2 separate regions of the Homo sapiens genome follow, and region 1 is linked to region 2. The links come from fine-mapping of genetic effects on gene expression. A gene starts in region 2. The other region holds a variant in brackets. All regions are shown on one strand. Distances are from middle to middle. Region 1 has its middle 28 kb from the start of ADCY5. Region 2 holds the start of DTX3L (deltex E3 ubiquitin ligase 3L).

Region 1 (15,347 bases), 910 kb before region 2:
GGGAGGCCAACGCGAGCGCATCACTTGAGGTCAGGAGTTTGAGACCAGCCTGGCCAATGTGGTAAAACCCCATTTCTACTAAAAATACAAAAATTAGCCAGACATGGTGGCACATGCCCATAGTCCCAGCTACTCAGGAGGCTGAGGCAGGAGAATTGCTTGAACCCGGGAAGCAGAGGTTGCAGTGAGCAGAGATTGCGCCATCGCACTCCAGTCTGGGCGTCACAGCGAGACTCCATCTCAAAATTTAAAAAAACCCAAATGAACAAAACGAAATGTGAGATCATGTTTTCTCCACTTAAAAGCCTTCAGTAAGTGTGTTGTTCTTGGGGTAAAGTCCAGACTCCCAAACATGAGCTAAGACCTTCATCGACCTGTGCCTGCCTGCCTGTGTCCCTAGCCCCTCCACTCCCCATCCTGAGAAAGCCTATCAGGCTCTCAGGGCGCTTGGCTGTCACATCCTGGCTTTTGTACACCACATTCCCTCCACTTGGAAGACTCATTCCCCCTCCACCTTGCTAATTCATTTCCATCCTTCAGGTGTGACTGGGGCCCCCTTCTCCAGGAAATACCTGCCCCAGGTCCCAGAACTGGCTATGGTGCTCCTCCTAGATGCTCCCACAGTGCCAGGGTTGTCAAAACAAATAAGCCCAGCTAAATTTGAATTTCAGACAACAATGAAGAATTTTTCAGCATAAGTGTGTGTCCAGCAACATGTTTAATAATTTGCCAGGTGCAGTGACTCACACCTGTAATCCCAGCACTTTGGGAGGCTGAGGTAGGAGGATCACTTAAGCTCAGGAGTTCAAGACCAGCCTGGGCAACATAGTGAGACCATGACTCTACGAAAACATAATAATTTTCTTAAAAACACTTTAGGCCAGGCTCGGTGGCTCACGCCTGTAATCCCAGCACTTTGGGAGGCCAAGGTGGGCGGATCACAAGGTCAGGAGATCGAGACCATCCTGGCTAACATGGCGAAACCCCATCTCTACTAAAAAAATACAAAAAATTAGCTGGGTGTGGTGACGGGTGCCTGTAGTCCCAGCTACTCGGGAGGCTGAGGCAGGAGAATGGCGTGAACCTGGAACCTGGGAGGCGGAGCTTGCAGTGAGCTGAGATCACGCCACTGCACTCCAGCCTGGGCGACAGAGCAAGACTCCGTCTCAAAAAAAAAAAAAAAAAACACTTTAAATAATTTGCTAACTTGCTCTGTGACAATGAGCATGTTTCCCCATCACAGTCCTCGTTGCTCTGTGACAATGAGCATGCTTCCCCATCACAGTCCTCGTTGCCGCCTCTTACCTGTTTGCCCACCAAGGACGGAAAGCTCCCCAAGGGTAAGAACTTCATCAGGCTTGCTTCCCACTGTATTCTCAGGGCCCAGCCTTTCACTGGGGTTTGGGAGATGTCAGGAAGCTCATAAACAGATGATTAAATCAGGTAGTTTAACGGACTGTGAAGAAACCTAGAAAGGCAATGTGTTAGAAAGTGTGGTCAGATGAAGTCTCTCTGAGGAGTGATTCAGGATTTGAACCAGATCTCACTGACCCCAAAGCCCACAACTGTTTCCCTCCACCAGGGTCAAGCCTCATTTGTGGCAGAATATCATGTGAGTTGCCCACCAAGGCAGCCTCTCAAAGGTTGCAGAAGCTCCTTAGAGACTGGAGGCCTCTCTGAGCCCTTGGGGCTCCTGACAAGCACGGTGAATGTGATAAGACGTCGAGGTGCTGGGAGGACCCCACCTCCTGGAGCCCAGGCTGCAGCACCATTCCATGGCTGCTGTAGTCAGAGCACTGGGCATCTGAGCTCCAAACTTTCCTGACTTTCCTGGGACCCAGCATCACCCTCGGGTCCCGGTCATTAGCAGAGCTGCTGGCAGCTCGGAGTCTGCTCACAAGATTCTCACAGGCCTCCAGGTCCTTATCTGCAGCATCCTGGGACCAAGCCCCCTCCCCAGGGCTGGGCTGGGTGGGCCATGCCAGGGGCACCTCTGCCCACAGCCTAAAGCCTACATTGCCTATGTTTCTTTGGGTCATTGCTGCCTCTTCTTCCCAGCATTAGGGCAGCTCATCAAGCCCCAGCTTTCCCTGAAAGCCCTCCTGGGCCCGGCAGCACACACTGACATTGCCTGCCCACAGCTGGGGCTGCTTTACCTCATGCCCAAAGTAAGCCGAGGAGCAGCCCCACCCGCTCCACGGAAGACTGCCCCTACCCGCTACAGCACCACAAGCCCCCAGCGCACATCGTACCTGAGGGAACTATGCCATCTCAGGCGTGGAAGGGGCCTCAGAATGGCGTTGTCACCTCCAGTCTCCACTTGTACAGAGTTGGAAACTGATGCCAAGAGGGATAGGGGCCACTTGGCTGGGCACGGTGGCTCACGCCTGTAATCCCAGCACTTTGGGAGGTCGAGGTGGGTGGATCACAAGGTTAGGAGATCAAGACCATCCTGGCTAACATGGTGAAACCCCATCTCTACTAAAAATACAAAAATTAGCCGGGCATGGTGGCAGATGCATGTAGTCCCAGCTACTTGGGAGGCTGAGGCAGAAGAATGGCTTGAACCCGGGAGGCAGAGCTTGCAGTGAGCTGAGATTGCGCCACTGTACTCCAGCCTGGGCAACAGAGGGATAGGAGCCGCTCCTCATCCCCCCACCCCACCCTACAGCCTGCAGGATGGTGTGCAGGGCATTTCAGGGTAAGCCAAGTAGGTAACTTCCTACTCCTCCAGGGACCTGAGCTTGCTGCCAAGGCAGGCAGAGTCAGGGCTGCCCACATTGTGATCTCAGGTGGGGATTTTCCGGGAGATTGTGGATTTAGGGGGGACCCTCCCAGGCCCTGAGAAGGATGTCGTGAATACTGCCGCGAATAAGCTTGGAGGACACAACCAGGGGGCCGCTGTTTCAGGCAGCCCGGGGAGGACCGAGGGCAACAGAAAGAGGGAGGTCCACCAGGAGTTTCCAGTAACCCCTCTGGAAGCTTGTGGTTGCACAGCTTAATCTGGGTCTGTGAGGGTTTTCCCAAGTTTCCTACATGTATTTACCCAAGAACTGATATCTGTGGGCACCTTCCAGAAGGCCCAGTTCCTGCCTCAGCCACTCTCCCCTAGTCAGAGCAGCATCCTGAGGCGCAGCCTACAGATACGGAGTCCAAGGGCTTGCCCAGCCTCCTGTCAGGAATGTCAATCCCAAGCCAGGTGGCTGTTTGGCTTGCCTGGTATATTTAGAAAAGTCAGGCTCCCTGCTCCCTTACAAAGTGTGAACTGCACCTATCACATGGAAATGTGATTCACTTCTCAGCAGCCCAGCTGAGCGGCTTCCACCGCCCCCAAGCATCCCTCCTCCCTGCCTCCCTCAGCCCTCTCTGCACGGGTATCCTCATATCCTCCAGTGGAGCTGAAGGCCCTGCCCCACTGTGACAGGGAAGGGCTGGTGGAAGGCACCTCAGTGGTCAAAGGCAAATGTCCCTTTTGCATTTTCTGGTAGCAATGCATTGGTCTTACTCTGTTTCCTTCTCTCTGGAAATCTGGATGCTTTCTTCCTCAGAGTCCTCAATTCTCACCGCCCTGACACACACACACTCTGCTCCTCCTGGGGTCTTGAGAAGCCCTGGATTGACTTGCAATCTGACCATGAGCCCCTCATGTAAACAAGTGGCATAAAGCAGAGGTTGTATCCTGGCAGCCAGTAGGCTTTTCGTTTTTGTTTTTGTTTTTCTTAAAATGATATTTTAAATTGTTTTGGTTACCAGCGTTTTAAAATTATGAGAGTTCACATTTTAAAAAATGAATTTCCTGCTTCTCTTGAAAGAAGATGTGGCACTCCGGCAAGCCTGGGCCTGGTTCCTGCACGCCTCGGCACACCCGCGGGGACTGAGTGGAGGCTGTCCCCTTTCTACAAGTGGGTTCTCCAGGTCACCTCACCAGGCCTGTGCATTCATTTGAGTTCCCTGCCTGGGCCTTGGAGATTTCTGGATTTAGAACTCCACATACCTGGGACCTTCCATTCCAGCAGAGATAGAGCAGAGACACCCCTAGTACCATAGGGCCTCATTTCTCCTTTTCCTCCCTCGGTTTCTCACTCTTCACTCTTCAGTCTTCTGAGTTATCTCCCTTCTTCTCGCACCCCTCTTGAGTACCCTGTATCATTGACTTATGTGGTTCTATTTTTGCCCAATACCAATCTCCCAGCCCTTCCTTGCCTGGTTCCTTGGAGACAGAGCCTTGTGATGCTTTGGAGTTGGGCGTGAGTTCGATTCCTGCTCCACTTTTTGTCTTCACCACTTTCCTGAGCCTCTTTCACGTAAAAAATAGAGAGAAAATGATACCTCGTTTGCAAGGTTGCCCCGTTCCCTAGCTCATGAAGTGGTCAAAGACAGCTGAGTTTGTTTCAGTGGAGAGCAGAGACTGTGGCCTCCTCTCCTGGCCCTGCAGAAACCTCAGCCACTTCCCCATTCTGTGGTCCCAGGACATAGCACGTGTGCACAGGCTACCCCCAGTGGGGCCCAGAGGTGCCAATGCCTCTGACACTTGAGGACAGGAACTCCCCTAAGTGACAAGCCTCATCGGGCTGCTAGACACTAGTCAGGCCCAGGCTGGGCTCCACCCAGGAGTCACCCAGGATCTCAGGACATGCTTCCCCCTCCTTCCCCAAAATCCCCAAAGCCAGGTGTCTGCCCCTGCCCAGGACCACAGGGAATACTGCTGATACTGCTCAGCATGTACTGTGCCAAGCACTGTTTATATTTTTCATATGCGTTAACTCCTGAAATTATCCCAATAATTCTACAATTTCAACACTGTTAGACTCCCATTTTACAGAGGAAGAAACAGGAATCGTTGAGGAAAGGTTAAATAACTGGCGCAAAATCACCCAGCAGGTGAGTGGTAGAGCCTGGCTATAAAGGGAGGCTGTGGAGTTCCAGAACTTACACCTTTCATGACTGTGCTAATTATACCGCTTTTACTGTAGCTCCCAGACCACGGTGCCCCGTGCTGAGCATTCAGCCCCTCTCTCGCCATCTTGAATCACTTCAGCTGCCGCAGCCCAGCCTGGCCCCCAAGCTGGTTACCCATGAGCACCGCGTCATGGCAGAGCCCAAACAACACCCGCAATAGGCAAATACCTGGAGATAGAACTCTCGTTTTGAAGTCAATCTTTTGATCACACAGAGAAAGTAAGTGCTCAACAATGAAATCCTCTTCCCTTTGTTGTCACAAACATAAAGCAACCCATTCAAGTGCCCACAAAATGATAAAATCCCCGCATCTCTATTCCTCATTTTTGCCGTCTTGCTCAGTGCTAGCCTTGAGGGCCTGATACAGCTCCTTCTGCACCTGCAGGCTGGGTCCCTTTCCCTTGGGACTGGCGGGCTCCTTCAGCCCCTCCTAGGGACACTGACACCAACCTGACGCTCACAAAAAGAATTCTCAGAACCTGACACAATGGAGCCGTGTTGTTTTCTTGCTTAGACCCTGGCAGAAATGTAATAGCTACCCTGGGAGGGGAAGGCATGCCAGGCAGGGACCAGTAGATGGAGAATCTAAGCAAAGAAGGGAGGAAATCCGCTTGCATTCTGCCCTGACAGGAGTCCAGTCCTCCTCAGCCCTACAAAGGCCCTGAGCTGGGCAGCTGGCCCTCCGTGGGGGTAATTCCCACTGAGAGGTTGGTGGAGCTGCTCAGCACACTCACGGGCTTCTAGACCTGCACCTGCGTGTCCCTGTGGTCCATTAGTTCCCAAGCCCAGGCGCTCAGGGGCCCAGGAAACATGATATGATTCTTTTCCACAGGCTTCCAAACCTTGCCCGCCCTCATCCTCAGGTTCTCCAGGTCCTGGCTGCTGCTCTCACCTCCCATGAGAGCACCAAGTCTCCTTCCTGCTACCGCAAGACTTGACCTCCCTAGAAAAAAACAGCCAGTCCCCAGCCGTCTCTTGAGAATCAGGACAAAGAAGCGAAAACACAAAAACATGGTGGAGACGCAGAAACGTGCCCTTTGCCCAAGTCCCGCCCCCTGGCCTGCCCCAGCACTGTCCACCTGAAAGCCCTGCCTGCCCCAGCACTGTCCACCTGAAAGCCCTGCCTGCCCCAGCACTGTCCACCTGAAAGCCCTGCCTGCCCCAGCACTGTCCACCTGAAAGCCCTGCCTGCCCCAGCACTGTCCACCTGAAAGCCCTGCCTGCCCCAGCACTGTCCACCTGAAAGCCCTGCCTGCCCCAGCACTGTCCACCTGAAAGCCCTGCCTGCCCCAGCACTGTCCACCTGAAAGCCCTGCCTGCCCCAGCACTGTCCACCTGAAAGCCCTGCCTGCCCCAGCACTGTCCACCTGAAAGCCCTGCCTGCCCCAGCACTGTCCACCTGAAAGCCCTGCCTGCCCCAGCACTGTCCACCTGAAAGCCCTGCCTGCCCCAGCACTGTCCACCTGAAAGCCCTGCCTGCCCCAGCACTGTCCACCTGAAAGCTCTGCCTGCTCCAGCACCGTCCATCTGAATAGTCCAGTGGCACTGGAGGTGTGGACCAGCCTGCAAGGGAGTCTCTATTCTTCCCGACAGGACAGGCAGCCAAGCTTGCTGCTGGCCTAAAGCCCTGAGACTCCTCCCCAAAGCAGGAGCCCAGCCTTTTCCTGTCTCTCCACTTAGGGGGCTCCCTTAGCCCTAGGACTGCCCCTACTGAGTGACTCTTGAAGTCAAACTGTTGCTGGTGGCCCAGGCACACACTAGTGGGAACAGCCTGCTGTTCAGGGAAAGGATCATCAGCTCATAGGGTTCTTGTTTGTAGTGCATTAAAGCAAGTCTGGGACCTGGTTCACTGGGTCATTGATTTTTACCCTGGGGAAAGGGGGTAGCCTTACCCTTCGTTGATATGGAACTGAAAGACCTCTGTTGTGGGGAGGGAGAAAAAGAGATGGTG[A/G]TCATTCACAGTGATTCAAGACAATGATTCTCCAGAGGAGAGCTTGTTCTACGGCTTCTGAAACTAAGCTACAGGCAGGGCCATGCTACCCCTGAAGGCTTTAGGGGGAACCCTTGCTTGCCACTTCCAGCCTCTGGAGACTCCAGGTTTCCTTTGCTTCCAGCAGCTTCACTCCAGTGTCTGCCCCTCCCTTCACATGGCATTCACCCCTGTGTCTCTGTGCCTTAAATCCCCCCTCTCCTTTCTTCTCTCTCATGGGAACGCCAGTCATTGCATTTAGGGCCTACCCTAAATCAAAATTATCTCATCAAGAAATGAGTATGTAATCTCATGATAAGATCTTAATATCTGAAAATGAGATCTCCATCCTTAATTATATTTGCAGGCCTTATTTCCAAATAAAGTCACAGTCACAGGGACCAGGGGTCAGGACCTAGACACATCTTTTTGGTGGGAACAAAACTCAACTCACTACACCCTGTTTCCTCCTCTAAAAATGAAGACAATAACATCTGCCTTACCGCGTGATTTCAAAGGTTACATAGGTCAGCACACATACGGTTCTTAGAACAGCACCTGGTGCCTCATAAGTGCTCAATAAATGTGAGCTATTATTACAATTCCTCTGCCACCTGCCAAACTCCTCCTCACCCTTCAAGATGCAACTCAATGAAACTTGCTCTGAGCTGTCTCCCAACCCCTTTCTTCTCACCCAAGTGAAAGCGCTGCCTGCACATCTGCTTCCGCGGCCTTTGTAGACGCCCCTCTAGCATGGGCGTCGGGATGAGCTGTATAGAGGCTGTTTCCTCTCCCAGCCTATTGGCTCCTTTCGATCAAGAACTGGATCTTATTCATCTCTCTCTCTCTCTCTCTCTTTTAAAATAACCCTTTTTGAGTCCTACAAAAATATCTTGGTCACGAGCAATAATATGTACGTGTATAGAGACATCACAGAGCAAGAATATTTCATCATCATACACCCAAATGTTTCACAGTTTTCTCCTGATAATCTAACTGGTATCCTTCACCTTTGTCCCTCCAGCACCTGCTGCAAAGCCTGGCACATCGGGGAGGAGCACACAGAGTGCTTGATCATTGGAGGAGGAAGGCAGCCTGAGGTCAGAGCAGACACAAAGGGGCAGCTGAATGGAGCCAAAGGACACCCCCACGGTGGGGGGATGTGGGCAGTTTCTGAGGTTGATGAGAGGATGAAAGGAATGGCCTGGGGCATAGGGGCAACTGAGGCACGACAGATGAGTGTCAGCATTGAGTGTGCTTGAATGCTCCCTGGCATCAGGTAAACTCTCAGCCCTGATCCATGGCCAGTCTAGGGGCACTAAGAAGACAAAAAGAGGAAGGCTGTGACCATGGCCTGGCTGTGTGAAAGGCAAATCAGCTACCTTTGTTTTTATCGGCTGTTTATTATTTATGACTAATTACCATGCAGCAAAAAGCGGCTACATATATAATTACACGGCAGATTGATTTTGTTATTAGCTTCTTTTAATTATGCTGCTGATCTCTGTTTCCTAAATCTTCACTACCCAAAAAACAAACACAAAAACAAAACAGCCAAAAATAGAAGTCCTACTGCCCGCCTCTGCTTTCACAGCTGGGCAAGGTAGGTGGGATCCTGGTTCAGTCTCCACAATGGGATCAGTTCCTCAGCCAGAGCCGCTACTGTGGCTGTTGTTAAGAACTATGTTGGGCTGGGCATTGTGGCTCACGTCTGTAATCCTAACACTTTGGGAGGCTGAGGCGGGCGGATCACCTAAGGTCAGGAGTTTGAGACCAGCCTGGCCAACATGGTGAAACCCTGTCTCTACTAAAAATACAAAAAATTAGCCGGGCATGGTGGTGCATACCCATAATCCCAGCTACCTGGGAGGCTAAGGCAGGAGAATCGCTGGAACCCGGGAGGCGGAGGCTGCAGTGAACCGACATCACGCCACTGCACTCCAGCCTGGGTGACAGAGCAAGACTCCATCTCAAAAAAAAAAAAAAAAAAAAAAAAAAAAAAGGAACTATGTTGTACTGAGCACTTGCCGTGCTGGCTGTCTCACAGCACAGCAACCCTGCTAATATCCAATGAACATGCCCGCTCTGTAGAGGCGCCTCTAAAAGCCTCGGATGGAGTCATTCCCTTGGCTGGGGAAGGGGTCCTGGGCTCCAAAGGTGGGAGAAGCTCCAAAGTTCAAAGCCCCTCCAAGTGTCCAAGTTCACTCCCATGGGGTCCATCCTGCCCCCACTCGGGCCAGCGGCTTGCTCATCTGTGAAACCCACTTGTTTTTCACCCCTGCCTTCCTTACCCTCTCTGGTTCTTTGTATCCTGTCCCTGGTCCCTGCAGTGACAACCATGTGAAAATGGACTCCTCGGGTTCCAGCCAAAATAAGAAGACAGGAGGAGGCAGGGAGCCACAGAGAAAAGCCAGGCAGGTCTGCAGCAGGTTTAGAGGAGGTGGAGGGAGCTAATCCAGATAGTGAGACAACCAAGGGAGTGAACTCATTGATCTGGAACTTGTAAACGAGCTAAACCCACAAGGCATGGTCAGCATGTGTGTGCATCAGAGAAGCCATCTCTGGGGCGCCCCGATAACTTCCTTCATTGGAGAGGGCTCCTCACTCGCTGCAGGGATCCTTCCCTCTCTCCCTGGTTAATTCTCACCTGTCTTTCCGGTTTTCTCTCAAACATCACCTCTCCGGGAAGCCTATCCCAGGAGCCCTCTGTGTCCGACTCCCCTGGAAATGTTCTGTTGCTCTATGTTTTTCCCTCTGAGTCCTGGCACAGGCATCCCTAAGTGACTGTGGCTAGTAGTTCCGGTTCTGCCTCATTTCCTCTCAGAAGGGAAGCTCCGAGAAGGCAGCGATTCTTGACTTGTTCAGCGCTGTCTCCCGAGCACGCGCATCGCGTTAGGCACGTAGTAGGCACTCAGCAAACATTTGTCAAGGGCACAACTCGAGTTGGAAATATGGGAGGAGTAAGTCCAGGTGGAAGGAAAGAAATGTGAAAAGTAGACTTTGCCTTGTGGCTTGCAAGGCCTTTCCCCTTTTAGGAATTGCTCGGCCCACTTAGGAATTTCACAGGAGCATGGAATCCTCCAGCCACGGGCAATTTCCTCACTGCGTCCAGACTCTTCTGCTGTTCTCCTCAAAGAGCCCTGCAAACGAAAACTCCTCAGCTTTCCTTCCACGTTGCTTGTGACAGAGACTTATGCTGTTTGCTGTTAGGAAGTTCTTTTCTGAGTTTGACTTTATACTTTGCATCCCATTTTCAATCCCTTTTCCCTCTTTTGAACGCAGACTCACAGTATCAGAACTTCACGGGAGCTTACAGATGATCTAAGAAACTTTCGAGCCTTTGTTTCCTAAGCAGGAAAATCCCTTTTCCCAGTTAGAGAATCTCATCTCTAAAATGTGAGGCTGATGAAAGGGAAACAGTTCTGATGGATGTAACAGGTTGGGAGCCCTTTCAGGGCACCCCCAGGAGCTTCAAGGAACCCAGTGTGAAAACCACTGATCAGGTCCAAGCCTGATACTTAGTGGATGAGAAAATTCAAGAAGGGAAGTGATCTGTCCCAGCCAGATTACAACTCACCTTTGCCATCCTTAAGTTCACAGCCCACATCCACCTCAGTGAAAATGATAAAGTTTGGGGTGCTCTGCAGATGAACTTTTTGAATAAGTATGTTCCAGTGTCATTTGGGGGCTACGTGTTTTTGTTTTCCCTTTTGTGATATTTCATACTTCAATATGCCAAAAAAACTCAACAAGAAGTTGGCAAAAGAAGTTATACAAGCATGTTTCACAAATATCCAAATCTTTGAATAAAGATGGTCATCACAATTTCCCAAACATTTCCACATAGGGCTGCAGAGTAAGGCCCATCTTTTTTGTGTTATTTACTCATTTATTTCTTTTGGAGCACATTTGAAGCACAAACCATGCCATTGCAAGAAAGATCCAACTGGAACGAGAACTGGCGGGGACTCGTTTGTGCTGAGACTCATTAAGTTTCCCAGCCCCAGGGATTGGGGATTTTCATGGAATCAATTTCCTTCTTGGGACTGTTAACATAATCCCTTCACTGGAGAGTCGAGGGTCCTGCCAGCAGCCAGCACAGTGGGTCTGCTGTGGGCCTCTGAAGGAGAACATTCCCAAGGACCAAGAGGAAGGGCCAAGCCTCTTAGATGTCCCTCGATTCACAAGCTCTTCATGCCACACCCTCACCCTGCCCTCCACCTTCAGCCAGCTCCCAGACTCCAGGGCAGGGAAATGGGATGTCTCCGATGAGCAGGATCCATAGCAGTGCCCTGTAACAGCTATTACAGATCACTCATCTGCCACGTGCCGCCCTTCAAACATCAGTCAATGGGTTGGGTGCAGTGGCTCACGTCTGTAATCCCAGCACTTTGGGAGGCTGAGGTGGGAGGATTGCTTGAGGCTGGGATTTAGAGGCCAGCCTGGGTAACAAAGCAGGACAACATCTCTAAAAATAAAAATTAAAAAATTAAAAAAAAATCTGTTGACGTATCATGTTGTGGATGCCATTTTTTAATTAATTAATTAATTTATTTATTTTTTGAGATGGTGTCTCGCTGTGTCACCCAGGCTGAATGCAGTGGCGTGATCTCAGTTCACTGCAACCTCCAGCCTCCAGATTCAAGCAATTCTCCTGCCTCAGCCTTCTGAGTAGCTGGGATTACAGATGCCTGCCACCATGCCTGGCTAATTTTTGTATTTATTTATTTTTTTTAGTAGAGATGGGTTTTCACCATGTTGGCCAGGCTGGTCTCAAACTCCTGACCTCAGGTGATCCACTTACCTCAGCCTCCCAAACTGCTGGGATTACAGGTGTGAGTCACTGCACCTGGCCCATTTATTAAGCCTCTAGTATTTGCCAGGCACTGGGCCAGTCCATCTAATCCTGACAGCAAGGAATGACAACATTGGTATCTCCATTTTGCAAAGGTGAACACTGATTGTCAGAGGAGCTTGAGCCAAGTATTATTTCACTTAATGTTTGCATACATTAGGTTGGGCAAGGTGGCTCACGCCTGTAATCCCAGCACTTTGGGAGGCCAAGCCAGGCAGATCACGAGGTCAGAAGATCGAGACCATCCTGGCCAACATGATGAAACCCCATCTCTACTAAAAATACAAAAATTGGCCGGGCATGGTGGCACATGCCTGTAATCCCAGCTACTCGGGAGGCTGAGGAAGGAGAATCGCTTGAACCAGAGAGTCGGAGGTTGTGGTGAGCCGAGATTGCGCCACTGCACTCCAGCCTGGTGACAGAGCAAGACACTCCACCTCAAAAAAAAAAAAAAAAAAAAGTTTGCATACGTCATTTCATCTAATACTAATAATGGCTGTTATTGCTCGAAGACCTTCTTCTTCATGATTGTATACTTGTTTACTCCTCACAATAACCCTATGAAATTAGGTATTATTATCATTTTCATCTTTCATATGAGAAAACTGCGGCCCAGAATGGTTAAGAATCTACTGGGGTTAGGCATCCCTCAGCTTTCTTATCAGTTCAGGGTAGTCTCAATTCAGTCCAAGCAGCATTGACTATGTTTCTTCTGTGCAGGGGAAGCAGTATAGGGGAGTGGTTAAGAGCACGGATGCGGCCGGGCACAGTGGCTCACGCCTGTAATCCCAGTACTTTGGGAGGCCAAGCCGGGTGGATCATTTGAGGTCAGGAGTTCGAGACCAGCCTGGCCAACATGGTGAAATGCTGTCTCTACTACAAACACAAAAAATTAGCTGGGCGTGGTGGTGCACACCTGTAGTCCCAGCTACTCCAGAGGTTGAGGCAGGAGAATCACTTTTATCCAGGAGGCACAGGTTGCAGTGAGCTAAGGTCACTCCAGCCCAGGCAACAAGAGCAAAACTCCATCTCAAAAAAAAAAAATAATAATCATGGACTCTAGTTTGGAGTTCTCAAAGAACTTAAAATAGAACCACCATTCGACCCATCAGCCCTACTACTGGGTATACACCCAAGGGAAAAAAGTTCATTCTATCAAAAAGACACATTCCCCTGTATGCTCACTGTAGCGCCATTCATAATAGCAAAGGCATGGAATCAAGCTAAGTGCTCATCAACTGTAAATTGACAATGACAATGTGGTACATATGCACCATGGAATACCATGCAGCCATAAAAATGAATGAAATCATGTCCTTTGCAGCAACATAGATAGAGCTGGAAGCCATTATCCTAAATGACCTAATGCAAGAATAGAAAACCAATACTGCATGTTCTCACTTATAAGTGAGAACTACACATCGAATACACATGAAAAAGATGGAAGCAATAGCATTGGGGATCACTAGAGAGGGGAGGGAGGAGGCGGATGTGGGCTGAAGAACCACCTGTTGGGTACTATGCTTACTGCCTGGGTGATGAGATCGTTGAGATCCCAAGCCTCAGCATCATGCAGTTTACCCAAGTGACGAAACTGCACGTGTACCCTTTAATCTATAATAAAAGTTGCAATTTTTTAAAAAAATCATGGATGCTGAGGTCAGACATAACTGGCTTCAAATTCCAGCAGGATCAGAGACAGGCCTTGTGAGGACAGACAAGTGTGTTAGCTGTCTACTACTATGTAACAAATTACCCCAGCGTTTGCCTGCTTAAAGCAACCACTTACCATCTCCCAGTTTCTGTGGGTCAGGCAGGGACCTGAGAGCAGCTTAGCTGGGTGGTTCTGGCTCAGGGTCTCTCATGAGGTAACAGTCAAGATGCAGGCCAAGGCTGCAGCCACCTTAAGGCTCAACTAAGAGAGGAACGGGGTCCAAGCTCACTCGTGAGGGTATCGCCATGAGACTGCCTAGCAACACGGCAGAGGGCTTCTCCTGAAGCAAGTGACCCAAGAGAGTGGGAAAGCACCCAGGATGGAGGCCACAGTCTTTGAGTAACAATCTCAGGAGCAGCATCCCACTACCTCTGCCCTGTTCTGCTCAGTAGGAGAGAGTCCACCCTGGACTGGAGGGGGACTATATGAGAGCATGAATACAAGGCGGTGGGATGCCAGGGCCCTCTCAGAGGCTGCCTTCCACAGGTCCCTTAAACTTCTAAGTCTCAGTTCCCTTGTCTGCAAAATGAGACTCAATAGGACCTGCCTCAAAGAGTTGTTTTAAGACCTCAATGAGACAATGTCTATAAAGAAATAAGAGCTGGGCGCAGTGGCTCACACCAGTTATCTTAGCACTTTGGGAGGCTAGGCAGGAGGAGTGCTTGAGCCCAGGAATTCAAGACCAGCCTGGAAAACATAGAGGCCCTATCTCTACAAAAGATTTTCCAAGATTAGCCAGGCATGGTGGCACATGCCTGTGGTCCTAGCTTCTTGGGAGGCTAAGGTGGAAGGATTGCTTGAGCCTGGGAGGTTGAGGCTGCAGTGAGCCATGATTGCACCACTGCACTCCAGCCTGGGTGACAGAGTAAGACCCTGTCTAAAAAAAAAAAAAAAGAAAAAGAAAAGAAAAGAAAAGAAAAGAAATTAGAACAGTGCTCAGCAAATAGTGAGTGTTCAATAAATGTTAGTTGTGGGCCTGGTGCAGTAGCTCACACCTGTAATCCCAGCATTTTGAGAGGCCAAGGAAGGCAGATCACTTGAGGTCAGGGTTCAAGACCAGCCTGGCAAACATGGTAAAACCCCCTCTCTACTAAAAATTAGCCCAGGCATGGTGGCAGGTGCCTGTAATCTCAGCAAACTGGGAGGCTGAGGCAGGAGAATCACTTAAACCTGGGAGGCCAAGGTTGCAGTGAGCTGAGATTGTGCCATTGCACTCCAGCCTGGGTGACAGAGTCAGGCTCTGTCTCAAAATAAATAAATAAATAATTTAATTACTTAATGTCAGTTGCTATCATCACCAATGCTATAAGCTACTTGAGGGCAGGGAGAGTGTGTCTTTCTTGATCTCATCTGTCCATACCTGGCACTTCTTTTCATTCTGCTGATGCCAGGCACTGCCAGTGTCAGGTTGAGGGTAGGGGAGAATGAGGCAGTGCCTGCCTTCAGGGAGCACACCAGACACACACATGCACCTGCACAATATTCCCAAAGCTTGGGGAAGGGTCCTCCCCAAGGACATCAGGAGTGTCCTCTATGAGCCATCTGGGGTACAAGGGCTTAGACTAACCAGAGGCTCTGAACCTACTCTCCCCAGAGATGGTGCAGCAGTGCAGGTAACCTCAAGGGGCTAGTCCTGGGTACAAGCCCTCCCTCCCTGCCCCTGTGGGCCCTGGCTTGGCAGATCCCTCAAGCACCGCCCATACTTCTCTCAGGAGAGACTGGCACAAGGGGAAGAACAAGTTCCAGAATCCTAGACCACCCCCGTGTGGCCGGCAGTGACTGCATGGCTCCCTGAGGCTTGTCATCAAGGAACAACATGTTGCCCTCTGGGGTGCTTGGCGATGGTGGCA
Region 2 (15,347 bases):
AGATGGCAATGAAAAAGAGATCAATTGGCAGCCGAGAGTCCAACTGAAGGACACAGAAGATTATTTCGGACCCACCTCTAACCCCAGTGATGACACAAGAGGGATGACACCTTTGCAGCAGATTTTACACAGATTTGGGGGGCTTTTGTCTTCCATAAAAAGTATCACTCCAGGGCTGGGCGCGGTGGCTCACGCCTATAATCCCAACACTTTGGAAGGCTGAGGCGGGCGGATCACGAGGTCAGGAGATCGAGACCATCCTGGCTAACACAGTGAAACCCTGTCTCTACTAAAAATACAAAAACAAAAATTAGCCGGGCATGGTGGTGGGCGCCTGTAGTCCCAGCTACTCGGGAGGCTGAGGTAGGAGAATGGCATGAACCTGGGAGGCGGAGCTTGCAGTGAGCCGAGATCATGCCACTGCACTCCAGCGCGAGCGACAGAGCAGACTCCGTCTCAAAAAAAAAAGTATCACTCCAGAAATGACAGACTAGCAGATTGTTATTCTTATACAAACCATTTCTTGAGAAGAAAAATTTCAAAGTCCTTTCTACATAAGGATTTAGACTGGCATTAAATCAGCCTCCTAAAATATATTTTTTTGAAAGCTTGATTTAAGACATCTTCCAGCAGTTGTCTTACTCAATTCCTTTGGCTTTCAGCTCCTCTTTGACACGTTTCAGGTAAGAAGGATCAGGATAGCCATACCTGAAGAAACAAAAATTCCTTTAGTGTCACCACAAATTGTTCGGATATGTGCAATAGATATCCAGCATTTAAGGATTTAATTAATATCCAGTGTTGCAAACATTCACAAGTAATCCTGAAGGTGGATGACGTATCATGACTTTTAAATTCGCAGATGCGAGTCATTTCGCTAGCGAGTGAGCCTAGCTGTCTGGCCAGCATCTGCCTTTCAAGCTGGCTTCTACCCTGCCAACTACAAAGTATTAATATGATGTATTTATTACATTTCGCATCAAAGGGCAGGGGGTTTGAGAATCCAAGATGAATAGTAATACGTTGATTTACTTTGAGGCTTCATGTCTATGTTAATTCTTAAAATTTTTCAGTTTATGGTAAGTAGTGACTCTCCTAAAAATATAATAATATACTGTGTTTTAGGGGGGCATCGTAATCACATGCTAGTAGGATTTTCAAATTTAAGGTTTTGGAAAAGTCTCAGGGTATATATTTTTTCTTTAGTGCCAAGGGTCTGAGGAATCCTATTTGGGTTTCATAAAGAACAATTGGATTTCGTATAATACAGTTTCTACCAATAGTCTCCTCACAACTTAGACTTTTTCTAGAATATTATTGGCCAAGTGATTTCAGGTTCTCTGTGGACTGGTGGGGGAAGGGGTGAAAAAGAAAGGTGACCTTAAAAGGAAGCAAAGTGACATTCCGAGCATCTAGCCTTCAGATAGACACAACGCCTCAAATTAAATCAGCTTATATAGTATTCATCTCGGATTCAAAAGCCCCCTGTCCTTTGGTGCAAAATTTAAATAACTCCATAGTACTTTATAGCTGGCAGGGTAGAAGTTGATGGGGACCAATCTTTCTGTCTTTGAGATTACCATCCCCGATCAGCAGCTCTCAAAACACCAATTCCACTGCTATAGAGTCTACTTATATCCACATCCAGAAATTGCCGTATTTCATAATCCCTATACTCTGTTGAGCAGCCATTACATCCCAAAAGGATCTCACATTTCTGGTCCTCCAAACCGGGATGTTTTGTGGTGAATATCATTCCAAGTGATGACATCTGAGACTCCTAATACGCGAGAGTACCCCACTGTAAAAATCAGCTTTTGGTCAAAGGCCCTATAAAGCAGTTTCAAAACCTTCCTTCCTTCCTTATTATCAGGCAAGTATGCAGTTCGCTGTATTCCAGGGTATCTCTTTCCTGGGTTTGGGTGTTCTTCCTGTGTGAGAACAAGAAAATGTCATGTGAAAAGAGTGCCCTGTCTAATTTTTACTATAGGTATAGATGTGTTCATTTGTAGATAAAGCAAATCAAAAGCAAGAAAGGTATTGAAGTTATGCTCATATTCCCAATAACTCATATTTCTCCTCTTTCCTTGAATTCATGCTGGAAACACTGTCCACCTTCCTGATACCCCCATCTCAAGATATAATCTCCACCCACCCTTTCTCTGTCTTAAGAAATAGACACAAAAGGTATTTGAATTACCAGCAAACATTGTGACCTTTACCACTATTTCAGTCCCTTGCACATGACCCTGGAGATAATTCCTTGGGAAATCTATTGTCTAATAGGCAACAGGACAGTCTCTTTTGCCCTGGTAATCGTAGCATAGTGGCAAGAAACCCATGGACTTGAGAAATACTTACTGTTTGTATGCCTGCTTTCATAGAATAAGTAATCACAATGGTGCCAAAGGACTCATAACCTGGAAGTGAGTCTCTTGAAACAGTGAAAACCATGCTTCCCTCTGGCTGATTTCCTTTCTGAATACCATAGGAAGTCTGGCATGTGGGACAGATTGGCTTATATGACATGGCTTTGTTGATACAAGGGGCGCAGAATTCATGCTTGCACTTTGGTAGCACTTTTTTGTTACTAATGGTGTCCATACAGATGACACAGATGCCCTTTTCCTTCTTGTCCAGTTCTGAGGCCTCAGAACTCACAGAGCCCTTGAGTGGCGGAGAAGCTGCTTTGGAATCATCGCTATCAATGTCCATCGGTGTTTCATGACCCTCTTTCAATTTCTTTCCAGCCAATGAAGACATTCCTCCTCCTTTTAGAACATACTGCTTCGCCTTTGCAAGGTGATTTGGCAAACCAGTCAAAGTCATTGACTCTTGATTTAGCACAAAGTGTACATTTGGATGTCTTTTTCTAAAGTCATCAGCAAACTTGGTCTGATGTAAGTGCTTTCTCTCCTTGCCCAAAGACTTCAGTAAAAGAACTTCTCTCATCAACTGACATGAGGCATGTTGAAAGGCATCGATGAAACTTGCATAAGCATGCACAGATAGATCTACCTGCCTGTCCTTGGATTCAAACAGAATGCAGGTTTTCTGACCTTTCTCAGAAACCTTGCTGCAAATGTCATACCTTTTTTCGATCTCTGATATCTCCTGTAGTAATTCAGTTTCTAAAAGTTTATAGTGGGCACTATCAACCTCAATTACATTCATCATGTAATTGGCAGCAAATAGTTTCACAGGTATCTTGACAAAAGCTTCAGAGATTTTTTGTTTGGCAGCTGAAATGTCATCTTGGGTCCCAAGGAGAGTTAATTCGCCTCCTTTCTCCTTTATAAGGAGCTTTGTAAACTGGTGATTCAATTCCTGTTTGAATTTATTTGCCTGCTTACTGTCTGCTAAAGAGACACATTCTTGCTTCAGAGGTTCTGTGTTCTTCTGAAATTCACTAGCAAAAGACTCACGAGCTGCTTCCAGGTCACCTGATCGACTTGAGGTGAAATCTAAACAGACCATATTTGGAGAACTCTCCTGGATTTCAATGTTTACACCAAATCTTTTCTCTATTGAGTTGATTTTATCAGGACAGATATATTTAAAGTATTCAAAGTAAGGCAAGGGAACTTCAAAATAGTTGCTTTTTTGTTCTGCCTTGGTTTCTGGTTCAGAAGGAGAAATGCAGCTGTCCCTCTCCTGCTGACTGAGTGGCTTCCTCTCTGTCATTGAAGGGGAAAATTGTTGTTTCTGCTCACTTTCCAGGAACTGCTCACTCAAAAATTGATGTATTCTTTCAATGTCTTGGAAGTCACCACACACCTTCTCAATTCCATCGTGACCTTCCATTTTTCTGATACTAGGGCACAGTGTGGTTATGTATGCCCTCTGCTCTTTGGAGAACAGGTTACAGTTCAGGTCAGCTGTTACAGTAAGAAAGATCTGAAATTTTAAAAGGAACAGGAACAAATAAAACCTCTCAGCATGCAGGCCTACCATCTTCTCTTCAGGAGAATGCATAGAGACTAGAGAAACAACCACTACATCTTTCCCAAGTGGGGGCAACTTCTTTCAAATCCTATTTATTTATTTATTTATTTATTTATTTATTTATTTATTTCAAGATGGAGTTTCACTCTTGTTACCCAGGCTGGAGTGCAATGGCGCGATCTCAGCTCACTGCAACCTCCGCCTCCCGGGTTCAAGCAATTCTCCTGCCTCAGCCTCCTGAGTAGCTGGGATTATAGGCATGTGCCACCACGCCCGGCTAATTTTGTATCTTTAGTAGAGACGAGGTTTCTCCATGTTGGTCAGGCTAGCCTGGAACTCCTGACCTCAGGTGATCCACCCACCTCAGCCTCCCAAAGTGCTGGGATTACAGACATGTGCCACCGTGCCTGGTCTCAAATCCTTTTTAGAGGATACAGCACGCTACATCCCAGAGGTTCTCAGCCCTGTCTGCATATAAGACTCACCTGGCGAATTCAGGGAAAAACAAACCAGCCAAAGCCCAAGCACATCCCCAGAGATTCTGATGTTAACTAATCTGCAGTGGAGCCTGGGCATGAGCATTTCTAAAAGCTCCATGGCCAAGAGATCCGTGTTCTACAACTGCCACTAGCTGTTTGATCTTGGGAACAGCAGTCAAGGGAAGGCACCTGTGCTCTCTGGGCAAGTTGTTGTGGCCCTCACAAAAGTTTGTGAACTTGGAAGGGAGCCATAAAACTGAGGGCAATGGCTTTTCCTATTACTATTTTTTCTCTTCTTCACTCTTCCTCCTTTATTCTTGTTTCAACTAAACACTCGACTGCATGCAAAGTTGTGGACCCTTCTAAACCCTGGCCTTTAGAAGCTCAAATATAAGACACGCCAGGTTAAGATAAAAAGGACAGAGACCAATTGACTGTAATATAAAAGCAAAATTCCTAATGTTTTGTTCCTTCTCAAGGACTTTGCATGTTAAGATCCTTCCTCTAGATCTTCAAAATGTTTCCTGAATCCAGCCATTTCTCACACCTCCATCAAGGCCACCAAAGTGCATGCCATTATCATCTTTCACCTGGCGCACTGCAACCCCTCCTAACCAGGCTCTAACTCTCCATTCTATCCCCTTTCTACGTTCAGTTTTCCAACAGCAGCCAGAGTGACCCTTTAGAAATATAAACCAGATCGCCCTCTCCCCTGGCTCAAAACTATCTGATGAATCCCCTAACATTTTAAGTTAAAAATCCAAAATCCTTACCTTCAGCCCCAAAGGCCTGTCTTCTGGGTACCTTCCCGAGTTCCTAGCACCTCTCTCCATTGCTCACTGCCCTCCCCACCACACTGGCTTCCTTAAAGCTTCTGGGCCTCAAAATGTCAGCTCTTGGGGACTTTGCACCTATGCTTCCCTCTAGGACACTTTCCGCCCAGAAATCCACTTGGCTAGAGATGTCACCTCACTTGAGGTTTTTCCAGACATCCTATTTTAAATGGTGGTTCTGTCACTGTCTGTCACTTATTCTTCTTCCTAGCAGGTATGACTGGCAGACATTTTATTATATATCTATTGTTTACTAATATTGTCTGTTTCTCTCTCTAGAAGGTGCCGTCCCTGGAAGCCGAGTCTGCCATGTTCCTGGCTGCCTCCCCAGCTCCTATAACAGTGCCTGGAACACAGTAGGCAGTGGATATCTATTGTTGAATGAATCTTGTCATCATTCAAGTTTCAGGCCAAACATCACCTCCTCAGTCAAGTTGTCTCTGATTTCTGGTTAGAAGTAGCACCAGGCCAGGTGCAGTAATTCATGACTGTAATCCCAGCACTTTGGGAGGCCAAGGCGGGCAGATCGCTTGAGCCCAGGAATTTGAGAACAGCCTGGGCAACATAGTGAGACTCTGTTTCTACAAAAAAAAAAAAAATTGGCTGGGTGTAGTGGCGCCTATAGTCCTAGCTACTCAGGAGACTGAGGTGAGAGGATCCCTTGAGCCCAGGAGGTCAACTCTGCAGTGAGCCATGATTGTGCCACTGTACTCCAGCCTGGGCGATAAAGTGAGACTCTGTCTTGGGGGGAAAAAAAGAAGTAACACCACCCCCATCTTCCCCTTGCTTGCCCTGGCGCTGTTTCTCTCCAAATAAATAAAATGGTTTTATTTATTTTGTTTACTTGCCTACTGTCTTTCTGTGCATGACCTGGCCCCCAGTATAAGCTGCCTGAGAGCAGGGGCCTTGTCTGTTATATTCATCTCTGTGTCCAGTGCCTAAAACAGTGCCTGGCTCCCATGTACGTGCCCAGCACATGGGTGTTGGATCAATAATACATGAGGCTGGTGACTGGAGAGGAGGCGCAGGCACAGCCAGCTCCTTCTTTCAATACTCACCTTTTGGAGACAGGAATCCACAGCATTAGGAATATGTCCTTCATGTTGATGCATATCACCAGACGGTGTTTCTGCTTGTGATTGTGTCAGTGAAGAAATTTGAGGTCTCGTGTTCTTCTTTATTGAATTTTCAGTGGGTACCAGGAAAATGGGCACAGGTTTTTCGTCAACAAGTATTTGGTGCTCTCCTTTTTTCAACACTCTCTCCTTAGCTTCAGTGGAGACATTAAACACACACATATACACACATAAAAATGGGAGAGATTTCAAGTAATCCTCTCATTCCTGTGTCTGTACTCTGCCCCAGCACCTCCCAGTAAGGCTGCTCCCTGCATCCTGGAATGGTGGGTTGGCGATGGAGAAAGTCGGGGAGCTATTAAGAGCTCTAAAGTGTGCGGATTAAGTTTTACTATAGAAGTGAAAGCTTAATGACAATGGAACATTGTCCACCGATTAAACATCATGTTTCTAAAACTGTCTCCAGTCTCCCCTTTCCTTCTTCCTTCTTTCCCTCCCTCCCTCCCTTCCTTCCTTCTTTTTTTTTTTTTTTTTTTTTTTAGACGGAGTCTCACTCTGTCACCCAGGCTGGAGTGCAATGGTAGGACCTCGTCTCACTGCAACCTCTCTGCCTCCCGAGTTCCAGCGATTCTCCTGCCTCAGCCTCCAGAGTAGCTTGGATTACAGGTGCGCACCACCATGCCCGGGTAATTTTTGTATTATTAGTAGAGACGGAATTTCCCCATGTTGGCCAGGCTGGTCTCGAACTCCTGGCCTCAGGTGATCCACCAACCTCGGCCTCCAAAGTGCTAGGATTACAGGCGTGAGCCACCGCACCCGGCCCAGTCTCCCATTTCAATACTCATTATACAGGTAAGTGACAACAGCAGGAATCAAAAGTGCAGACTCCGAATTTTGTAAATATACATGTGTTTGCTGGCATTCATAAAAAAAGGCAGGAAGGAAATACACCAAATGGTCACATTGTTTATCTTCAGGTTGTTTTCTTTTTTACTCTTTTATTTCTATAGTGAGCATATATCACTTTTGTAATCCTCAAAAACACAAAATGGAACATCCTTTTGTTCATGGATGGAACAATGGAACCATTATTTAAAACATAAAAGTGGAATCCCTGAATGACAAGGACAGCAGCTGGCAGGCATCTGGGGGAAGGAAGATGACAGCTGAGAAATTAAGTTAGAATGAGGATATGGAAAGCATCCACACTAAGGCGCCGTCAGCCAGACCCGCACCAGGCACATGTGAGGCCCCATCCTCCACCGAGTGTTCACTGTCTCAGTGAGTCTCTTGGCAGTAGGGCCCCGTCCCTGTCCGCCACCGCACAGTGACATACTTTCTCCCGCCCTCTCCCCTAGGTCAGCTGGAACTGGGTCCGCCTGGAAACCCGGGGGCCGGGCCCCCAGAGGGCTTTCGCAGCCTGGCCGCCCGAAGCTCACCTGCCCTTTCACTGAACTCCACCCGGAAGGTGCCCGGGGCTTCGTGTTCCTGGGTGCTGACCGTGCACTCCCCGCCGCCCGAGGACTTAGAGCTCTGGAAGTAGCTCTCCAGCTTCCTTCGTACTCGGGGGCCGGACTTGTACACCCGCACGAGGAGCGGGGACGGCGGGCGCAGGTGGGAGGCCATGGCTCTGCGCGTCGGGAGGGCGCGGGGGCTCCGGGAGGCAGCTGGGCGGTAAAGGCGCGGCCCGCCCTGCGGACTGGGCGCAAAGTTTCAGTTTCGCTTCCCTGGAGGTCCCTCCCTGTTCCCGGCAGAGCCGCTTCCCCCTCCTCCCTGTGCTGTCTGCACCGAGGAGAGCGGCCTGCCGGGTGAGTAGGTCCGGTGCCTCTGGGCCCTCGGGGTCCCCTCTCCTGCAGGCTCGAGGTGGGCGGGGAGAAGGGGGACGGGCGCGGACCCGGGTCCCAGGGCCAGGCCTCCCTTGTGAGTAGACTATGCAAAGAAAGTAAGTTTCTCCTGTGTTTCTTATTCTTTGTAACTCTTACTGCTGTTACCACTATTATTTGATCCTAAAAAGTAATTCACATTCTGAATCCATGTTAAACTTACCCATTTTTGAAAATTTGAATGTGTTCATCTGGTAATTGTGACCTGTTACCCCTTCCCTCCCTCCAACTCTACCCTTTAGACGGGCTTCTGCGGGCTTTTCTCCTCCATTGCTTGATTTAACCAACAGCACTGAATTGTTTCTTGCTGCCCAAAGAGCAGAGCAAGGCCCTGATGTCAAGGGCTGGTGAGGGGAGGCGGACCTGTGAACCAAGGAGCAAAACTTCTCCAAGGCCTCCAAGGGGAAGTTTCAAGCAGAATCTTAATAAATTGAGTGTGGCGGCGAGATGGGGAGGACAGGATTGGGGGGAAAAGCACCTGAGGCTTAGGGACCACTGTGGTCTGAAGCACAGAGTGGGCCTGGGGCCTGGGAGGAGAGGAGATGGGTGAGGGGATGAAGGAGGGAGAGCCTACCTAGATGGGCACTGTCCAGCAGAAATACAATGGGAGCCAGTAGGTTCATTCTAAAATTTTTGCAGCCATATTTTTTAAAGGATAAAGAAACAGATGAAATTAATTTTAATGATTTTTAGGAAATTTTTAAAGGATAAAGAAACAGATGAAATTAACTGTAATGATGTTATTTAGCTTGACATATCCAAAACTTAATCATTTCAGCATGTAATGAGATTTTTACATTCTTTTTATCATACCACGTCTTTGCAACCCAGTGTTTTTCTTATACTTACATCACATCTCGATTCAGACTGGCCACATGTAGCCTCAGTAGCTATGTGAGGCTGATAGTCCACCCTGGACAGGACATATTTAGATGGTGAAAAGCCTTGAAGAGCAGTGAAGATGACCTGAAGGGCTTTAAGCAGGGAAAGCAAGAAAATGACTTGCCAGATTTGCATTTTAGAAATATGGTGCTGACAACCGTGTGGAGGACACATTTACAAGCAGGGATGAGTGGCGGCAGAGAGGCCTGAGATAAGGTTTTTGCACATGGCTGGTAAGACTGGAAATGGGCCCGTCTTTACTGTGAACAATTTGGCAATACTGTCAGAATTACAACTGCATATACTTTTTGGTTCTGGAGTTCCATTTCTAGGAATTTGTCCCATTGATATATTAGCCCCTGTGTGAAGTGACCTGTGTACAAAGATGTTCTTTACAGCCTTGTTTACAATAGCAAAAGATAGGGAACTCTTTAATGCCCATAAATAGGGGGACTAGCAGTTTAATAATAATAGTATATCTATACAATGGAATACAATGGGCAGTAGGAAAAATGAAAAAGCTCTCTATGTGCTAACATGAAAAGATCTCTAGGATACATTATGTGGGAAAAATAAGATGCAGAAGTGTGTGTATAAGCTACTACCTTTCGTGTAAAAAATGCCACTGGAAGAATACAGGAGAAGCGCTGATTGACTCTGGACAGGGAATTTAGCAGCGGAGACAGGAGGAAACCTTTTACATTTTCTAAATTTGAACCATGTAAATGTAATACCTATTCAAACAATAAAATGTCAAACTAGGTACATTTAAATCTTTGAAAAGAGTATATTGATGGCTGGGCGCGGTGGCTCACGCCTGTAATCCCAGCACTTTGGGAGGCCAAGGCAGGCGGATCATGAGGTCAGGAGATCGAGACCATCCTGGCTAACATGGTGAAACCCCGTCTCTACTAAAAAAAATACAAAAAAAAAAAAAATTAGCCAGGCGTGGTGGTGGGCGCCTGTAGTCCCAGCTACTAGGGAGGCTGAGGCAGCAGAATGGCGTGAACCCGGGAGGCGGAGCTTCCAATGAGCCAAGATCGCGCCACAGCCTGGGCGACAGAGTAAGACTCCGTCTCAAAAAGAAAAGAAAAGAAAAGAAAAGAAAAGAAAAGAAAAGAAAAGAAAAGAGTATATTGCCACAGCTCAGGCAAAAGTTGCTGAGACTCTGAAGTGAGGCAGTGTCAGTGGGCGAGGAAGGAAGGGGCATATTTGAAAGTGATTTAGTTTGTCAGGTCCCAGATATGAGACAAAAAAGACTCAGGGAAAGTTCCTAGATTTCTGATTTGAGTACGTAAATGGTATTATCATTTACTGAGCTGTAGAATCCAGGAGATAAAGTATGGATTTGGTGGGGGTGGGATGGAGGATTGGGGACCAGGAGATAAGAGGTCTACTTTTGCAGAGGCTAATTTGAGGGGACTGTGAGACCTCCAGGTGGAGTTGAAAAATGGGGCTCAGGAGAGCCATGGCCTAGAACTGCAGATATAAGAGTCATATTTGCAATTGGTGAGTTGAAGCCATGGAAATGGATGAGATCACTCCTGGGGAGTATGCAGAATGAGATGAAAAACGCCTTAGACAGAATCCTGGGGCAAACAATTAAGAGGGAGATGGTGGAAGTGAACGCAGGGAAAAGGCCTGTAAAGGCAAAGTGAAGGGTAATAGAAGAACCAAGGGAAGATGGCATAGGAGAAGCCAGGAAAGCAGAATTTCAGGAATCAAAGAGTGAAATACTATAGAAAGTGGTCCAGTAAAGATGGATAGAAGATAATCCATTGGCATTAACCACATGAGGGATTCTGATGAGCAGTTTCTCTTCTTTTTTTTGAGACAGGGTCTCATTCCTCTTGCCCAGGCTGGAGTGCAGTGGCACAATCACAGCTCACTACAGCCTGAACTTCCCACCAAGTGATCCTCCCATCTCAGCCTCCCAAGTAGCTGGGACTATAGGCATGCACCAACATGGCCAGCTAACTTTTTGTATTTTTAGTAGAGATGAGGTCTTGCCATGTTGCCCAGGTTGGTCTCGAACTCCTGAGCTCAAGCAATCTGCCTGCCTCTGCCTCCCAAAGTGCTGTGGTTACAGGTGTGAGCCGCCATGCCTGGCCACTGGCAGTTTCAAAAGGGTGCTGGGAATGAGGCAGGGAGCCAGGTTATAGTAGGCTGAGTGGGCAGGTGGACAGAAGGAGAGTCCACTACTCATTCCAGAAGTTTGGCTGCTTATGAAGAGAAGGAAACACAGTAGGAACCAGTGATGGAAAGTTGGGAAGGCTTTTCTGTTTTTAAAATGGAAGAAATGGAATGCTTAGGGCACTATGCTCCTTGTTTGGCTATCCATAGGCCTGTAAAACTTGGCCTGAAGACAGAAACAGGTGCAACATTTAAAGCAAAAGCCCATGGCCAAAGCAGATGAAGTCATCCTTCTTTTTTGAAAACAGCAGTGCCCTCTGGAGGCAAAAAATGCATCTTGTCTTTGCATTTTAGAATGCAAAGGATTGTACTAGACCTGCTGCTTTCCCTTGATGAGTAAGAATAGTGCTCTGATGCTGTAGATGGTTGTACAAAATGTTTCTATTGCAAAGACATTAGAAATCATTTCGACCAGGCGCGGTCGCTCACGCCTGTAATCCCAGCACTTTGGGAGGCCGAGACGGGTAGATCACGAGGTCAGGAGATTGAGACCGTGCTGGCTAACACGGTGAAGCCTCATCTCTACTAAAAATACAAAAAATTAGCTGGGCGTGGTGGCGGGCGCCTGTAGTCCCAGCTACTCAGGAGGCTGAGGCAGGAGAATGGCGTGAACCCAGGAGGCGGAGCTTGCAGTGAGCCAAGATCGAGCCACTGCATTCCTGGGGGACAGAGTGAGACTCCAACTCAAAAAACAAAAAAACAAACAAAAAAACAAACAAAGAAATCATTTCGAGGCCTAAATATAGCAACAAGTGTGGGCAACTGTATCTTTAAGCATTTTCATCATCAGTCTTCTAAAAATTCATAATCTTTAATTCCTACCTATTAGATGGAAAATCATAACAAAGTATTTTTCCCAGATTTTCTGACTTTTAACCAGATATACCCCTATCATTAGGTCAAGGATGTTTATCACAAATTCAATAATACACCCCCCTCACAGGCTCTAGTGGCATTTCCTCTTTCTTCAAACGCTCTCCAGGGGGCTTCACTCACTCATAAGCTCGGTCTTCTTTACTGTTCTTTGAATGCTGTTCTCAGTCTCACCACTTTGTTATCACCCTCTTCTTCTAAATATGTAAAAACCTCCTGCATCCTTCATGACCAGGCTCTAGTCTCAACTCCTCCATATAGCTTTTCCTGTTCCAGGTCGTAGAGCATTTTCCCTTCTCTGAACTGCCATTATGATTTCCACTGGAACCTCTCTTGGAAAGGGTAGAAGGCAAACAGTAACAACAACAGCAAAACAATGTGTACATCGTTATCAAGGAAATTAAGAACTCATCAAGATCAGAAATCATGTTCAGTCCTCCTACAGTATATTCTTACCGAATTTCCTAAGATTCTGGCTAATGTTTATTGCATCTTTTCTAATTCATTCCTAGAAGTGGGCCACCATATCTGGAAACTACAGTCTATGCTTTGAAGCGCAAAAGGGAATAAACATTTAAAGACTCCCCCGGGGACCTGGAGGATGGACTTTTCCATGGTAAAAAGCATAAATGTGTATACGTCATGAACCTTGATCAGCACATGAATACTTCTTTATATAACAGCAAGAAATCTGGGGTGTTCACCAACAGTTGACATCCTCATCTGCTTTTAATAGCTCAATAAAGTTTTCTCCTTTCTCCCTTCTTGAGAAATGGGGAATCAAGAATATGCTAATCTAATAAATAGTGTCAACTTGAAGCTGGATGATTTTTCAGAATCATTTTAATTCTCAGCTCATTTAGTGATTCTGCTTTTTCGGGTTGGGGTAAGGAGAGTAATAGAGGATGAATGAAAAGAAGGGAATAGAGAAAGATCAGATTAGAAGTCACTTACTAAACTTGAAAATTCCACATTAAGGTTTGTACCATGACAAAGGCAATTAAAAGTGGATCCTTGCTGGTGGATGAGAGACAGAGCTGATGAGGCTCATGTCCCCAGGTCTTCTGTCTAGAGAAACCCCATGAGCTTTTGGAGATTGGAGTCTATCTGAGAGTTTGGGGTCATTTTGGTCTGTGACTTTTGGGCCTTTTAAAGTGTTGATCTCTAAACCTCATCTCATTCTGAATTAGAATGAGATGCACTGAGATGCATTGGCGGTGGCTGGCGCCTATAATCCCAGTTACTACAGAGGCTGAAGCCAGGAGGATCACTTGAAATCAGTAGTTCGAGACCAGCCTGGTCAACATAGCAAGACTCCGCTCATCTCTAAAAAAGTAAAAACAATTAGCTGGGCATGGTGGTGCATGCCTGTAGTCCCAGCTATTCAGGAGACTGAGATGGGAGGATTGCTTCAGCCCAGGAGTTCAAGGCTGCAGTGAACTGTGATTGCACCACTGCACTCCAGCCTGGGTGACAGAGTGAAACCTTGTCTCGAAAAACAATAAAATTAAATTTAAAAAAAGAAATGCATCGGCCCCTAGGGAAATGACATAGGGCCAATGTTTGCTGGCACATTTAGTATTTTAAGTGTTTCGGGCATGCAGATTTAAAAAAACACATGCTTCCTGCCCTCCCAAACACAGTGCTTTGAGCAGGATTTCCATTGCATTGTGTTTACTAGGGTGTATTGGTTATCAGTAAGCTGTAGTCATTCCACTTCCATTTTTTAAGAAAGCCATTCTCATTTTTCACAGGTGGCCGGAGCAGCAGCTTACAATGAAAAATCAGGTAGGATTACCTCGCTCTCACTCTTGTTTCAGAAAGTCTTTGCTCAGATCTTTCCTCAGTGGAGAAAGGGGAATACAGAAGAATGTCTCCCCTACAAGTGCTCAGGTGCGTGACTGCAGACCCTTGTGGGGACCCCCGCACATGCTTCAGAGTTGGTGTGGCACCGACCAGCAGGCATATTCTCTCAAGGCCTACACCATTCCTCTCCTTTGCCCGTAAATGTGAGACTCTTTTAACGACAGCCTATGGCTGAATTGACCAGATGGGGTGGCCAACTGATTGTCTCCTTGCTCAACGAGTACTATACAAGCTAAATAGTTCTGGCCTAATTCCAGGGGTCCCCCATTAAAGATTTTCAACCAAAGCTCAGGCCAATAGGGCCTGACTACCCAATTCCGGCTTCGTTTGGGTAATTGAGGCCACAAGAGGTCTTTCTAGGAGACTCAGATTAGAAATGGGAGTTGAAGCAAAATAAAAGTAATGATCACATTTTATCTATTTTAGGATGCACATTTTTTTTTCACATTTTAACAATACTGAAATAAGGTAGTGTACCTGTTATCAATTGATGGTATGCCCCAGTTTAGTTGGCATTTTTTTCCCTTTCTCAGAGGCATTGTAACAACAATATCTTAGACACCATGAAATACAGTGTCCCAAGCTGGGTCCTCCAGGAAGCAGAATTTGAGATGGAATTAGGAGTGCAAAAAATTCACTGTGAAAGGTAAAGAGAGGAAGCCGGACTGGGCAGACTAGCCATCAGACTGTAATAAAAACCCGACAGTCTCTGCAAGCCTGAGATTGACTGTTAGAGGTGTCCCACGTTGGGCATGAATGGCCTTGCTCAGCTACTGATGGAGGCTGCCCTGAGAATAGCATGACCTTGGCTGAAAGCTGAGATGAACCCTGAGGGGCTAACAGCTGGAGGCTGTCAGCTAACTGTATTTCCCACTTCATAGCCAATCGCAGGGAGATCTGAGTAGCACATCTTCTTGTCTGCCACATACGGTAAATAATTTTTAGTCAATTAGTTTTAATTTCACCAAAATTGTGCCAGACTAGAATATCATAAAGAATTATTTACTGAACTGAAGCAGACAGTATCAGTGCTCATTGGCTGGTCCAATGTCTCCCCTACTCCTCCTCACCAGGGAACTGCCTCAATCAATGACCAATAGAAGTTGGGTAGGCCAGGCATGGTGGCCTTTTTGAAGCCACCCAGGTGGGCAGATTGCTTGAATCTTTTGGAGCACTCTGGGAAATGCCTCTGAGAAAGGGGAAAAAATGCCAGCTAAACTGGGGCTTACCATCAATTGATAACAGGTATACTACCTTATTTCAATCGGCCCAGGTGGGCAGATTGCTTGAAATCAGGAGTTTGAGACCAGCCTAGGC

The links. PIP is the estimated chance that this variant, and not a neighbour inherited with it, causes the effect.
Region 1: its variant is fine-mapped to the expression of DTX3L in fibroblasts (GTEx, PIP above 0.99).

The regions. Positions count from the first base shown.
Region 1 is chr3:123,469,794-123,485,140 of GRCh38, reverse strand. No RefSeq gene overlaps it. Among named protein-coding and RNA genes, the nearest start is that of ADCY5, 28 kb to the right of the region's middle. RefSeq lists a silencer at 4,525-4,624. The variant A/G (reference allele first, on the strand shown) is at 6,911.
Region 2 is chr3:122,557,039-122,572,385 of GRCh38, reverse strand. DTX3L (deltex E3 ubiquitin ligase 3L) reads right to left here and starts at 8,048. Exons shown (of 5, transcript NM_138287.3): 1 at 7,773-8,048; 2 at 6,316-6,527; 3 at 2,362-3,897; 4 at 1,714-1,931; 5 at 1-708. The coding sequence starts at 7,959. The coding sequence ends at 639. It overlaps PARP9 (poly(ADP-ribose) polymerase family member 9), which reads left to right and starts at 8,086. Exons shown (of 11, transcript NM_001146105.2): 1 at 8,086-8,141; 2 at 12,677-12,780; 3 at 13,919-13,952. The coding sequence starts at 12,766. It overlaps LOC105374071 (a long non-coding RNA gene), which reads right to left. Exons shown (of 5, transcript XR_001740869.2): 5 at 12,416-12,496. RefSeq lists an enhancer at 8,041-8,160 and a silencer at 8,201-8,300.